Homo sapiens: one gene and its partner. The protein of the gene in region 2 purifies or fractionates together with the protein of the main gene of each other region. This does not show direct contact. Each region holds a gene or a part of one and is shown on either strand. Other genes may lie near its edges.

Region 1 (3,483 bases), on a different chromosome or scaffold from region 2:
AGTAAGATCTCACGTATCCAGAAATAATTGAATACTTGGAGGTTCTAACACATTGCCCCTATTAATAGACAATTCTGACAAGCGCAGATAGCTGATGTCCCCACCAAACATATAGAATAATGTTTGCAATGAGTGGAGAGGAGGACTAACGGCAGACACAGTTAAGGCTCAGGAAGAGACGGCCAGAGCCTGAGAGCAAAAAGATATGGGGAGAATCAATGGGAACCACTGAAGAACAGCCCCTTCTATCTTAATGTCTCCTGAGAGTGTCAGGTTACCATGGCACCTGTTTTGATGCCCAAGACAGCAAGAAAAATGATGTAACCTAATGTACTACATTTAAGAAGAAATAAAGTATGTGGTATATTTTGGAAACATTTTTATACATCTTAGCTAAAATGTTTAAAAGGTTATTGCTTAAATAAGTCAGCTTCATTTATCTGAACATTTAAATTATGCAGAGAAGCTCATCTCCCAGCTTTGGCAAATAAGCAAGATGTTTCTGTGCTAGTTTTCAAGCATGAATCATCTTCATAGATCACATCAGCGCATTGATCACACCAAAAGAAGTGTCTGGGTAACCACTCCTTTGCTTTGATTTCTAGAGTCAAACGCTAACAGATTTGAAGGACATGAGAAAGCCTGAATACCATCCTCTCCAAACAGTGGGCCCCTCAATCTGAACCTTGAAGCTGAAATACGATTCCTACTTCATGTACAAAACACATTTTTTATTTTGCAAAGCCAAAGCCATGCTTTAAAAATACAGACTTTGAATCTTAAGACATTATTTTGCATTTTAAAGAGAGATATAGTTAAAGCTTACAAGAACAATATAAAGTTTCAAATAACACCATTGTCAGGTTTAAACATGTTGGTATGTTTACATGACAGTTCTTTCCTTTTTTTTTTTTTTTTTTTTTGAGATGGAGTCTCGCTTTGTCACCCAGGCTGGAGTGCAATGGCACGATCTCGGCTCACTGCAACCTCTGCCTCCTGGGTTCAAGCGATTCTCTTGCCTCAGCCTCCCAAGTAGCTGGGATTACAGGCACCCGCCACCACGCCTGGCAAATTTTTGTATTTTTAGTAGAGAGGGGTTTCGCCATGTTGGCCAGGCTGGTCTCAAACTCCTGACCTCAAGTGATCCACCCATCTTAGCTTCCCAAAATGCTGGGATTACAGGTGTGAGCCACCATGCCTAGCCCATGACAGTACCTTCCTAACATGTGTTTGTATTTTTGTAACACAAGTTGCTATTTTTCTAATGTTCATATATTTACATAGCCCTTTAAAAACATGAGTTCCATGAACTTTCTATGTCATTGAAGAGAGCTGTTAAAATCTGATTCCATCACAAATTTCAGACCCCTTTAAAATAATTATCAGAAGCCAGCATAATTCCAGCTGTCCCCTAGCTAATCTGCAGCTCCTCATAACAAAAGTCTTCAGCCACACATTGCTCTTCAACCACATTAAAGAAACGGAACAAAACTTCTTTCTACATTGTCTCAGTAAAGTTGCTTTCTTTAAAAAAAAAAAAAAAGTATTCCATTTATTTAAAAAATTAAAAACATCTAACATTTTAAACTGTACAATAAACCCCAACTTCATTACGATTCATTAATCAAATCTCTCTTGAGTCCATTTTGTTTGCTGGAACTCCGCTAGGCACTCAGAGCACAGCTGTGAGCAAGATTATTCTAGATCCTGTCTTCATAGCACTCTCAGCTTAATGGACGTTTAGACAAGAGACACTCACGACAGAGAACAGCTCCCAGGGAAATCAAAGCAAACCGACAGTTTCCTAATGGCCCACTACAACCTGAGCTGCTTTATCCAATTGGTGACAATTGTCACCAACACCTGTTCTGCCATTGTCCCCTTCTTCCCGAAGCACTTCCAGGTTGTGAACACTTGAGCTTGTCTTTCCACCTCCATTTTACAGGGTCAGGCTTGTTGACTGTATCAAAGGGAAATGAGAGGAAACACTAGCCGGCCAATCCTGCTGCTTATAACCAGCAACAATAAACATTCTGATAGATAAAAATGTTTAAACATTTGCCTAAAATGAGTGATGTGTTGGCTTCCATTTTTTTTTCTGTTTTAGTTTTTCAAACCACTGCCATCATTTTGTGCTGTAACCAAAAGACACTGTGATCTGTGACCGCTTCATGAATATTTCTGAAAATGTTTACATTTGTCAACAATTCACTTTAATTCAGCATTTCCCAAAGGCTGTTTTGTGAAATGCCAGGCGGATATATACCCTAGAGCTACAAAACATTCCTTGCAAAGTGCTGGAAAATGCTACCTATCAGAGACCACCCCACCCTGAAGAGATCACACAGCCCATGAGCACGTTAAGTCCCGCAGGAGAGAGGCTTGCTTGATTTTGCTTAATTCCCACATTTTCCATGCATACCTGGCCATAGACTTTTTTTTGCATAACATCTATGAGTATGTTTCACACATGCCTTAGGGAGACTCAGCTTTCTATCACATAGTGAAGGACGACGCATTGTCGTTATCTGCGGTCTCACTGGTCTGCCGAGAAATGTTTTCTGAGTACCTCCCGGCACAGGAGAAGCCTGAGGACTTGTACTTCCTTCTCACACACCACAGGTCCTTCAAGATCTTCAGAAAGTAGTTTCTGAACTTCTGCCCAATAAAAGCGTAGAGCACAGGGTTCAGGCAGCAGTGCAGGAAAGCCAGGACTTCTGTGACAGTTTTCGTATAGCCAATTAGCTTTTCGCTCTGGCAGGATCGGTTCATTTTACCCAAATTTGCAGCCGTCACAAGCAGGACCATGTTATGAGGAATCTGACAAGCCAGAAACACAAGCACCACAGCTATGATTACACGGATGGCTTTGTGCCTTTTAGAATTCTGAGCTTGCACCAAGGTTTTGACAATGAACGTGTAACAAAATATCATGAACATCAAAGGGATAAAGAAACCAAAGAGTAGCTCAAGCCCCAACATCAGCAGCTTCCACCTGATGGGCTCCGAGACAGTCTGGTACTTGGGTTCACAGACATCGCTGCCTTGGGTGTTGTATTTTTGGTTGAAGACAAAAGTTGAGCTGGAGATGATGACTGACAGCCCCCACACAACAAGGCAGATGATTTTGCTGCGCGGTAGTGTTCTGGATCGGAGCCGGAATGACTTAGTCGCCTGTACAATGGCGATGTACCGGTCCATGCTAATGCAAGTCAGGAGCAGCATCCCGCAGTTAAAGTTGATGGCATAGATGCCTTTTAGCAACTTGCACGTGGCATTGCTGAAAACCCACGCACCGGTGGCATGACTCACTGCCCAGAATGGGAGAGTAAGAACAAAGAGGATGTCTGCAATGGCCATGTTCAAGAGATAGACGTCTGTCATAGACCTGGCCTTCTTATAAAAAGCAAAGGTGATCACCACCAGAATATTCCCCAGGAGGCCAAAGACACAGATCAAGGAGTAGGCAATCGGTACAAATAG
Region 2 (3,763 bases):
ATGAACATGTCAGTGAAAAAGAGGAAAGATATTATACTAACGACAAGTTCAAACAATCCTAGAAAAGAAAACGGGAAACAGAAGAATCAAAACTCAGCTCCTGGGATTAGAGTTCACTTTTCACATGTCCATCTGAGTGCAAAATGGGATCCTAGACTCAAACATTATAAATGATCTGTTCTGGCTAATTCAGTATATTATAAACTAATCTCTCTTGGCTTCTTGGAATCTGGTCATTTCCTCATTTCCCTCGCATAAGTACTTGAAATGTTCTACCTAAAGTACTTCTTAATTAAACTATAAAGATATTTGTGAGACAGGATACTCCTAAGACATCTTTATTATTTAAATCTCTGGGAATCATCACTTCCTTCATATTAATCTTCCTAAAACCCATCTTTACACATTATCTCCCTGCTTAAAATATACTTTCCACTAAATACTTTAAATTTAGCATTTATTCCATACTCCACCCCTTTCGGATCTTTCCAACCTCATCACTCCTGTATTTCTACTCTAACCAGGCAGGTTTACTCAATGTCCTCCCACTGTCTTGGAAGTTTTACCTCTGTATCTTTCATCATAGGGGTTCAAGAACCTAAAATGTCCTCTCTCCCTTTATTTTAACTCATAATCATATCCATTTTTCAAAGCCCAGCCAATTCATTACTCTAGTATATAATTTTTTGTTCCTTCTTCTGAATAACTGACTTTTTTTTTCTTTTTTTTTTTTGAGACGGAGTCTCGCTCTGTCGCCCAGGCTGGAGTGCAGTGGCGCAATCTCTGCCTCCCAGGTTCAAGGGATTCTCCTGCCTCACCCTCCTGAGTAGCTGGGACTACAGGTGTGCACCACCACACCCCGCTAATTTTTTGTATTTTAGTAGAGATGGGGTTTCACCATGTTGGCCAGGATGGTCTCATACTCCTGACCTCGTGATCCTCCTACCTCGGTCTCCCAAAGTGCTGGGATTACAGGATTGAGCCACCGCGCCCGGCAATAACTAACTTCTTACTTAAAGTGTGGGGGTGCTGGTGCCTGCAAGCCTGAGTCCAAGTCTCAGATCTACCACCAACTCGTTACTGAAACTCTCTGTACACCTCATTGACTCACCTATAAAAGGAGCACAGTGATAGTACCTATCTCATAGAATTGTAGGAAAACAATGGACTGATTCTTGTGAAGAGCTGAGAACTGTCACTGACACATATCAGCCTTCAATAAATACTATGATTCTTGCTTTTTACATACTAGATCCTAGAAATGTATCTTGAAAAAGTTTCAGAATTTCACAAAAGTTTACTCACTACAGGGCTGTTTATAATACAAAAAAGAGTAACAATCTGAAGGTCTAACAATTAGGTATCATTTACATAACTTATGAATATCCGCACAGTACTATGACTAATATATTACATAATCTCAAGATTTTTTTGACATGAAAATACAACCATGTAAGTTGCTAAGAGAAACAAAATTCAGAGCCCAAACCACTATGCACCTCAGGACTTCATTTGTGTAATGTAAACAATGAAGTATACAGGCACAGAAAAGTGGGTGGTTGTATGCCAGAAGAGTTACAGTTTCTAAGAAGCAGAATAATGCATTTTAAAAATCTGTTTTTAACTTTCAGCAATGACATAAGCTACTCAAGTTTTTTTTAGAAGGTTGAATTCAATAATTAATAGAAAACAAATGCAAGGACCCATCTCTGATCACTCCAATCTTCCGCCAGACACAATCTCATCTACAGCAGACTTTCAGATTGATAGAAAAACTAAAGAAATGCACATGTGGCAAGACATGAACACATGAAAATAGAACATTAAAAAACAACTGAATAATTTGTAATTATTTTAAAAGATGAAAAAAAAAAGGGCAGACTTGTTTTTTTAAGGAAACTAACCTGTGCTTAGACTACTCTCTTCCTGACACTCGTGTTATTTACTTACCATATGGAAACTCTCCTAGGTCATCATGTAATTTGCTGTAACCTCTTATCTCCAGCAAGAACAGTGCAACAGTAAGAATACTTATCCATGGCAATGCCTGGACAGTAAACTTAATCTCTCGACGGACTTGATTCTGAAAGTGAAATTTCCAATACTTAAAAATCACAAAATCCATGTTAAACAAAACTAGCATAAAACTGTTCTGGACTGGATTTTTAAAATCTCTTTTACATGAAGGGGCTTACCTCCAAACTGTTTCTATTAAAATTTTAAATACATAAAAATAGGTATGTAAGAAAATCATTCCTTTTGTACTGAGAAAATGCAATAAGTATTTCAAATTCTGAAACCTTTTTTCCTTCCTCCAAAATCTGCATTCTAAACTTCTATTTATGGAATAACCATTTCTTTCCTAATTAACTTCCATCCCCAATCCTCTCTATTTTTTCTTTTTGCTGTTCAGTCCTTGGAGTCACTGACAAGTACAAACAACCGAAATTTAAAAATGATTGTAAACAACTTTAAAACTACTGAGTTTGAATCCCCTATCTAGCCAAAAAACAAAACATGGTAAAAAAACACATTTCAGTTTGTGAAAATCATATATTAAAATAATTACATAAATGTATGCATTTATTTACTCATCAATATCAGCATAAAAATGCTCCAATATGCATCTAGCAAGATACGATACTAGACTTATAGTTTTATTAAAAAGTTAGATTTGCTTAAACTAAGGGAAGGAGAGCAGGGATTAACCCTCATGAAAATATCTAACCCATTTGTGGTTGGTCTCCAAAATTTTATTTAATGGTTACATATAATCAGCTTAATCTAAAAATCTCAGAAATATATCATATTGTTATTTTTACTTTAATCGTTAGAAAATAGGTAAAAACATTTCTTACCTTTAAAAATTGTGGATGTTTCATTAATGCATGATCGAAGACAAAATAATAGCTCAGTGTTGCACAGAAGAAATAAAGGATGTAAGCACCAACATTTGTTACAATCAGAAGACTAATAGCTTGTCGGAAGATGTCATCTTCTGGCCATGTGGCTGGATACACGTATGGTGTAAAAAAATAGTAATCTGCAACACGGAGTACAAGATCCATCACTTAGCCCCTAAAAAATAAGCATGTGTGACAATTAGTTACCATGTCTCTATTTTTCCAGGCAAAAATTTTTCAGAAACACTATATCTCAAGTTCCTGATTTAAGAACAGTCATATGCAGTACATCTGCTGCTATCAGAATCCCCTACATGCCATCTTTAGAGCCAGAAGGGATCTTAGATATCATCTCTAGTCCAATCTCTTCATACTATGTATGGGGATGCTAAAGCTCAGTTAGAGAAACTGAGGCCCAGGAAAGGTCATCAAGCTGCTAAGTGGCACAAGCCCAGATGGAATTCCATTTCAGTGTCATTCCCTACCGCGTCCTATGGCAGCATGGCAAGTGGTAAAGATGGGAATGCAGGGGACTAGGTACTCAGACAAATAGTTTCCTCTTTCAGCTACAAGTTTCAGCTCATCTCTCTCCTTCAAGGATTCATACTTCAGAGATTTTTGCTTCAGCACTGACACCTAAGATAAATTCCCTAAAAGATATCCATGCTGCCACCACAACCATAGAATTGGGACTATCTGTTCTTCTGACACTCCCATTGACAGAACAAAGGAAGATGTATTCTTGGTGTTAAGAACTGGAATACATTTATTTCTCTACCTCTAATCAATATTCCAGATCGGGAGTTGGTAAATTGCAGCCCACGGGCCAAACTCAGAGCCTGCTTTGTAAAAATCTTTAT

The links.
Region 1: the proteins of SC5D (region 2) and CCR6 purify together in Homo sapiens (co-immunoprecipitation; one large-scale study listed by IntAct). This does not show direct contact.

What each region holds. Positions count from the first base shown.
Region 1 is NC_000006.12:167,136,369-167,139,851, reverse strand, and holds the end of CCR6 (C-C chemokine receptor type 6), read right to left. Parts: coding exon 2,497-3,483; 3' UTR 711-2,496; downstream 1-710. UniProt on the Homo sapiens protein: Receptor for the C-C type chemokine CCL20. Binds to CCL20 and subsequently transduces a signal by increasing the intracellular calcium ion levels.
Region 2 is NC_000011.10:121,302,681-121,306,443, reverse strand, and holds part of SC5D (lathosterol oxidase), read right to left. Parts: intron 3,079-3,763; 5' UTR 3,069-3,078; coding exon 2,859-3,068; intron 2,084-2,858; coding exon 1,951-2,083; intron 59-1,950; coding exon 1-58. UniProt on the Homo sapiens protein: Catalyzes the penultimate step of the biosynthesis of cholesterol, the dehydrogenation of lathosterol into 7-dehydrocholesterol (7-DHC).